Homo sapiens: one gene and its partner. The protein of the gene in region 1 interacts with the protein of each later gene in a pairwise test. Each region holds a gene or a part of one and is shown in the gene's direction. Other genes may lie near its edges. The genes, in order: RNF214 and LPXN.

Evidence for each region.
Region 2: the proteins of RNF214 (region 1) and LPXN interact in a two-hybrid assay, tested with the Homo sapiens proteins (one large-scale study listed by BioGRID).

Annotation. Positions count from the first base shown.
Region 1 is NC_000011.10:117,238,996-117,242,816, forward strand, and holds part of RNF214 (RING finger protein 214), read left to right. Parts: coding exon 1-116; intron 117-805; coding exon 806-865; intron 866-3,821.
Region 2 is NC_000011.10:58,551,634-58,555,454, reverse strand, and holds part of LPXN (leupaxin), read left to right. Parts: intron 1-514; coding exon 515-614; intron 615-3,821. UniProt on the Homo sapiens protein: Transcriptional coactivator for androgen receptor (AR) and serum response factor (SRF). Contributes to the regulation of cell adhesion, spreading and cell migration and acts as a negative regulator in integrin-mediated cell adhesion events.

The DNA of each region.
Region 1 (3,821 bases):
GCTTGGATTTCCGACCTGTAGTGTCTCCAGCAAATGGGGTTGAAGGAGTCCGAGTGGATCAGGATGATGATCAAGATAGCTCTTCCCTGAAGCTTTCTCAGAACATTGCTGTACAGGTCAAGTGTCAAGTTTCTACTACTAAAATGTAATTGGGGGGTGGTGGGGTTCAGGGTGGGAGATATTTCTTCATATTTGGTGGAGAACTTGCTGGCTTGTTTTGTTTTTTGTTTTTTTTGCTAGCAACCATCATACTACTCTCATACAGTGCCATACAATGACTTCATTCTGATGTTCAGTAAATAAGAAAGCCAGTAGCCATTGTCTAATCTTATGGCAAGTAGGAACTTTATGACCTACGTGTAGTCTCTTTCACTGAGTAACTGATGAGTGCAGGACATTAGCATTCATATTTATCATCTTTGACCTTGCAGGAAGAATCCTTGTTAATTCTCTGAGTCACATCTTAAGAAGTACAGTGTATCCTGCCTTCTAGTGACGGGTGTGCTTTGTTGTAGGAGAAAGTATGGGCACAACAGACTGTAGAGGGCAGACGTCTCATCTCAGACTTGAGGCTTTCTCTCAGTCAGTCATTGGGTCTTGTTTGGGTTATTTTGTGGGACCGATGATTAATGCAGCGTGGATGTTGGTGTCCGTTTGCCAGAACTACATTGCTTAGCTTGCTTGGAAGCTGGTAAGGGGAAAGAGTAAAAAGTTAGTTACCTGTGGCGGAATTCTAGGTGTTAGTGATTCTGCCTCTTTTAAAGTGTCTCTGAACGATTCTAAATATAACTTTTTTCCTTTATAGACTGACTTTAAGACAGCTGATTCAGAGGTAAACACAGATCAAGATATTGAAAAGAATTTGGTAAGTATTTAAACTGTCCTTGTTATATGAAGCCATTATCAAATAGAAGATCTAGAGGCATATCATCTCAGTTGGAAAAGGTGCAGGAGTCCCTTTCATAAAATTCCTGACAGATGGTCAGGTGACTTTTCCTTGATCACTTCCAAAGATGGGAAGCTTACTACCTCACAAAGCAACCAGTTACGTTTAAAAAAAAAAATAGCTCTTATTGGCCAGGCACAGTGGCTCACACCCATAATCCTAACATTTTGGGAAGCCGAAGTGGGTGGATCGCTTGAGCCCTGGAGTTTGAGACCAGCCTGGGCAACACAGTGAAACACCATGTCTACAAAAAATACAAAAATTAGCCAGGTGTGGTGGTGCATGCCTATAGTCCTAGCTACTCAGGAGTCCTAGCTACTCAGGAGACAGGTGGGAGGATCACCTGTTCACCTGAGCCAAGGAGGTCGAGGCTGTGTGAGCCGTGATTGTGCGATTGTACTGCAGCCTGGGTGACAGAGTGAGACCCTGTCTCAAAAAAAATTAAAAAAAAAAAAAAAAAAAAAGGCCGGGCACAGTGGCTCACGCCTGTAATCCCAGCACTTTGGGAGGCCAAGGCAGGTGGATCACCTGAGGTTGAGAGTTTGAGACCAAGCTGGCCAACGTGGTGAAACCCCATCTCTACTAAAAATACAAAAATTAGCCGGGCGTGGTGGTGTGTGCCTGTAATCCCAGCTACTCGGGAGGCTGAGGCAGGAGAATGGCTTGAACCCAGGAGGCAGAGGTTGCAGTGAGCCAAGATTGCACCACTGCACCCCAGCCTGGACAACAGAGAAGCTCCATCTCAAAAAACAAAAATGAAACCTCTTATTAGATTTTGTTCTGAGATGAAGATAAAAACCTTATAACTTCTTGCTTCAGGCCGGGCGCGGTGACTCACGCCTGTAATCCTAGCACTTTCAGAGGCTGAGGCGGGTGGATCACCTGAGGTCAGGAGTTTGAGACCAGCCTGACTAACATGGTGAAACCTCGTCCCTACTAAAAATACAAAAATTTAGACCAGCCACGGTGGCTCACGTCTGTAATCCTAGCGCTTTGGGAGGCTGAGGCAGGCAGATTGCCTGAGCGCAGGAGTTCGAGACCAGCCTGGGCAACATGGCGAAACCCCATCTCTACTAAAAATACAAAAAATTAGCCAGGTGTGGTGGCGTGTGCCTGTAATCCCAGCTACTTGGGTGGCTGAGGCATGAGATTAGCTTGAACCTGGGAGGCAGAGATTGCAGTGACCCGAGATCGTACCACTGCACTCCAGCCTGGGTGACAGAGTGAGACTCTCTCAAAAACAAACAAACAACAACAAAAAAACAAAAATTAGCCTGTAATCCCAGCTACTTGGGAGGTTGAGGTAGAAGAATTGCTTGAACCCAGGAGGCTGAGGTGGCAGTGAGCTTCTTGCTTTAGGCCGGGCACAGTGGCTCATGCTTGTAATCCTAGCACTTTGGGAGGCCGAGGCGGGTAGATCACGAGGTCAAGAGATTGAGCCCATCCTGGCCAATATGGTGAAACCCCATCTCTACTAAAAATACAAAAATTAGCTGGGTGTGGTGGCGCATGCCTCTAGTCCTAGCTACTCAGGAGGGTGAGGCAGGAGAATTGCTTGAACCCGGGAGGTAGAGGTTGCAGTAAGCTGAGATTGCACCACTGCACTCCAGCCTGGTGACAGAGTGAGAATCTGTCTCAAAAAAAAAAAAAAAAAGTTCTTATTGTAGCTTTCTCTTGAGCTTTATGGAATAAATCCAGTTCCTTTCCTGCTTGTTAGCCATGTGTATATTTGAAGTTTTTTTATGCCTCCTGCTCTTATTCTCTTACTCCCCAAGTTCAAACCTTTCCAGGTGAAACATCCTCAGATGTTTTTAGTATTCTTTTTGATACTATTTTGATACTATTTTCCATTTCTTTATCATCATTCTGGTTACTTTCACTTAGACATGTTCTATTTTATCAATATTTGTTTTAAAAAGTGATCTTGAGAACCATATATAATAGTACAGATACAGTATAATTACTTTATAATACAGTGGGATCTCTCAGTATCTCTCATTCTAGACACTATTTCTTAAGCTTACATTGACTTATTTTGGCAGTTTTTTCATACTGTTAAGCTTTTAGTCAAATTCCATCCAGTCTTTTTTTCATGTATTATTTACTTGTGTCTTTTTAATTTTATCCCCAGATAGTTGGCTTTTGAAGAGAACGTCACACTTACCTTTGTTAAAATGCTCCCTTTGATCCATCCCTGGCCTTTTGTGGCTAAAACTTCCACCTTTAAGTATATGGATATCTAAATGTACACTTTTTAAAGGGAAGGTAATGCTGGGAAAGGCACCCCAGGAAGAGGTCTTTAGGGTAAGATATGTTAATTTATAAAGAGTGGTATAAAAAGGGAAAGTGCTTGTAGCAACCAGATAAGAGAGTGGATATTTGGTGCAAGTTGAAGAAATTGAAGGGCATACGGAAAAAAGTTACTGGTGTACATTAACCAGATGAAGCCAAGAAAAGTTTTAAAATAGAGACTAGCAACTTGGGACTTAATTGTAACAGTCAAGTAGATGAAACAGGAACGAATGGAAACCCAGCAAGTTACTGGGCCAGAAGAGGCCCAGGGTTGAGTTTTGTTTGGCTCTATCTTTTGGGTGGTAGTGAGGTCCACATGCTTTTAAAAAGGCAGTGAGGCCGGGTGCAGTGGCTCACACCTGTAATCTCAGCACTTTGAGAGGCCAAGGCAGGGGTATCACCTGAAGTCAGGAGTTCAAGACCAGCCTGGCCAACATGGCAAAACCCCATCTCTCCTAAAAATACAAAAATTAGCCGAACGTGGTGGCGGGTGCCTGTAATCCCAACTACTCTGGAGGCTGAGGCAGAGAGAATTGCTTGAACTCGGGAGGCGGAGGTTGCCGTAAGCCGAGATTGCACCACT
Region 2 (3,821 bases), about 59 Mb from region 1:
TTACAATTATATGAATATGAAATCATCATCATATATATTATCTAAACTTTCTGCACCAGAGATTTGCAAACTTGTTCTGTAAAGAGGCAGATAGTAAGTTTGTTAGGCTTTTGTGGACTATAAAGTCTTTGTAGCAACTACCCAACTGTTCAGAAAAGCAGCTATGGACAGTAGATAAATGAATGGACATGGCCAGATTTGATCCAAGGACCTTAGTTTGTTGATGCCTGCTCTATATTCTAGTTTATTTTTATTTTTTGACAAAAACTGACAGGAGATATAATACTTTTTATAATTAGATGACCAGGGAGAAATAGAGAAAAAAGGCAGAGAGAACTTGTTTAGATTTTTGGTCTAGTACATATTAATATATTTTTAAAATACCCCCATCTCTGATTTTAGCTTCATATCCAGGGGATTCATTATTACAGTTGCATTTCCAGTACTTTATGTGTGGTTTAACATTATTTGAGTTTTGATTTGTTCATATGACTTTTTTGTTTTCCCTCTATAGTGAAGCCCAAGAGCCAAAGGAATCACCACCACCTTCTAAAACGTCAGCAGCTGCTCAGTTGGATGAGCTCATGGCTCACCTGACTGAGATGCAGGCCAAGGTGAGTGCAGGCCAAGGTGAGTGCAGGCCAAGGTGAGTGCAGTCCAGATGATAAACAGGGCCCATGGGGTCACCAGTTTATCTTTGTGGAACTCAGCTCTCCATTCTCCCACTTAGGAATTTTCCTAAGTTGTCATTGCTTTTTTCAGACTAAATTTAATTCCATGAATTAACCCATCTTTGTACTATGTGTTATTTGGACACAAAAATTAATATATAATACAGACTTTGATCTCAAGGAGCTGGAGTGTGCTTGGCAAAATGAGGCATAAGTTTCTTAACATTTATAGAATAAAAGCCAGGTGTTTTGCAAACATATGTGGAGCAAACATTACGGATATAGAGAGATTTTGGAGATTTAATCAGAGTTGAAACTTGGGATGGACTCTGAAGAACTGGCAGAGTTTGGACATAAAGAGATGGGAAGAAAGGTGGTTTTAGTTGCAATGAGTCCTGAGGGCAGAGGTATCTAAGGCTTGATGATGTGGAAGGATTTTTCATTTGTTTGTTTGTTTGTTTGTTTGTTTTTGAGATGGAGTCTTGCTCTGTTGCCCAGGCTAGAGTGTAGTAGCGCTATCTTGGCTTACTGCAACCTCCGCCTCCCAGGTTCAAGCGATCCTCCTGCCTCAGCCTTCCGAGTAGCTGGGATTACAGGTGCCCACCACTGTGCACGGCTCATTTTTGTTGTATTTTTAGTAGAGACGGAGTTTCACCATCTTGGCCAGGCTGGTCTCGAACTCCTGACTTCGTGATCCACCTGCCTCGGCCTCCCAAAGTGCTGGGATTACAGGCGTGAGCCACTGCGCCCGGCCAAAAGGACTGTTAAAGAGACCTGACTAAGCAGGACAGAGGAGACCAGTGAGCAAGCTGAGACACAGCAAGGGAGATCAAAGTATGGCTCTGACAGTAGGAAGGATGAGAAGTCCCAAGCCCATATTGAGATAAAATCTGCCTCTTTGTTCTAGCCTCTAGAACACCTCTAAAGTGGTGAGCTCACATAGTCGGGCATGGAATGGAAATCTCAGATAAATGGGCTTAAAGATTTATTAAAGGAAATATAATCCAGAATCCTTAAGGTGGAGAATCCAACCATTTTAAATCTGGTTGGAGGATTTGATATATACTCATGAGATGACTATGAAATAATTTCAAAGCAGTATATAAAAATGTATATGATTGGAGAGGGCAGGGACCTTATCTTTAGAGCTCACCTTGGGACTCCCAATGCTCAGCACAGGGCCTGATACATCGTGAGCAACACATATTTATTAGAGAGATGAGTAAATAAACATCACAAACAAGTTTTCCTTAATGACTGACATCCTTTGATGGGCCAGTGTCTACAATAAAGCTGGGTAGATTGGCTCATTATGCTGTATATCTGAAAATACTAGAAAAAATGTACATTAGATTTAATTGTGTTGCGTTTCTAGTTGATTTAGCTTGTGTATTGGTTGATTTAAATTTTTAATTTACAACACCATCTTTTTTTTTTTTTTTTTTTTTGAGACAGATTCTTACTCGGTTACCCAGCCTGGAGTGCAGTGGCATGATCTCGGCTCACTGCAACCTCCACCTCCTGGGTTCAAGCGATTCTAGTGCCTCAGCCTCCTGAGTAGCTGTGATTACAGGCGTGTGCCACCATGCCCAGCTAATTTTTGTATTTTTAGTAGAGACGAGGTTTTGCTATGTTGCCCAGACTGGTCTCAAACTTCTAAGCTCAGGCCACCTGTCTGCCTCGGCCTCTCAAAGTACTAGGATTACAGGCATGAACCACTGTGCCCGGCCCCATTTATCTTTTGAATAAGCTGCACTTTCACATTGTACACAAATCAAAAGTGCAAAAAGCTTGCACTGAACTGTTTCCTTCTCAGCTCTGCACCCTAGCCATCCAGTTCTGCCCCACCGGAGATAGGCAGAATTTCCTGTCTCTTCTATATCTGTTCAGAAGTATTCTGGAAGATAACAGTGAAGAGATAGAGATGTAGGTGTAGATGTAGTTATATTGTATTTTTACTTATTTTTCATAATTAATGTCAGTCACCCTTTCAGACCTTTCAGACACTAACCTTCTGAACACTAACCTCTTGAATATTAACTAACATATATTAGAGAAGGAAGGATGTCTGTCAGATGATCAAAATGTCTCGAAGCAAAATGAGCATTTTGATTGGTGACAGTGTGATGTTATAACAGGCAGTAAAAGTAGGATAAGTAGAGGTCTTAAGGCAGACAGTAACAGATCACATTCAGGAGATGAAGAGCCCAGCTGTCCTTTTACAACATAGTATTAATAAAAGATGAAATTGGGAAAGATAAAAAGGGAGGACAGTGGATGGGAGGCTTTGAATGTCTGTCTGATGAGTGAAGACTTGATGTGGTGGCAATGGAGAGCCATTGTAGTTTTCTGATGAGTGAAGTATTCAGTAGATAGATGGTAGCAGTCGCCCAGCTGGAAAGGAGTAGAGAGAGCCAGAATCAGGTTATGAGGTTATGAAGGGTCAGTTAGCCTTTTTTTTTTTTCTTTTAATTTGAGGATCCTTCTTTGAATGGTTTATAATAATTTTGGGCTTTTGCTTAAATAATTCCAATCCATCAACAAGTCTTATCTGACCACTTCTCACCACCTTCTCCTGTAATACTGATCTAAGTCATTATCTGAAAATCTCCCTGTATTCACTCTTGCTTGTCAACACTTAGTTCTCCACTCAGCTACCACAGGGATCCTCCAGATTCCTTCACTCCTGTGCTTGAAATCCTGCAATGGCTTCCATCACCTTGGAATAAAACCCAAGCGTTTACCATGAGGTTCCTATGTGATCTTTGCCTCTCTCTCCATCACCTTCTCCTGCCGTGTTCAATCTCACTCCCTCTGCTCTAGCCCCACTGACCTCTTTGACTTTTCTTCTAATGTGCCAAGTTGTTTTATTCCTCGGGGCCTTCCCTTCCCCTAGAATGCTTTTCCCATAAATGTCAATATTTCTAAGTCCCAAGTATCTACTCAAATATTACTTCCTTAGAGGGGCCTTCTTTGATTATTACCTCCATCTAAATCAATTCTTCTTACCATCTTGCTGTGTCCCTTCTATCTCTTTCTATAACTTATCTCTGTCTGACATTACAACATATATTTATTTATTTAATTATTTATTGTCTATCGCCCACAGAATGCAATTCCATGAGGCCAGACACTTGGTCTGTCTTATCT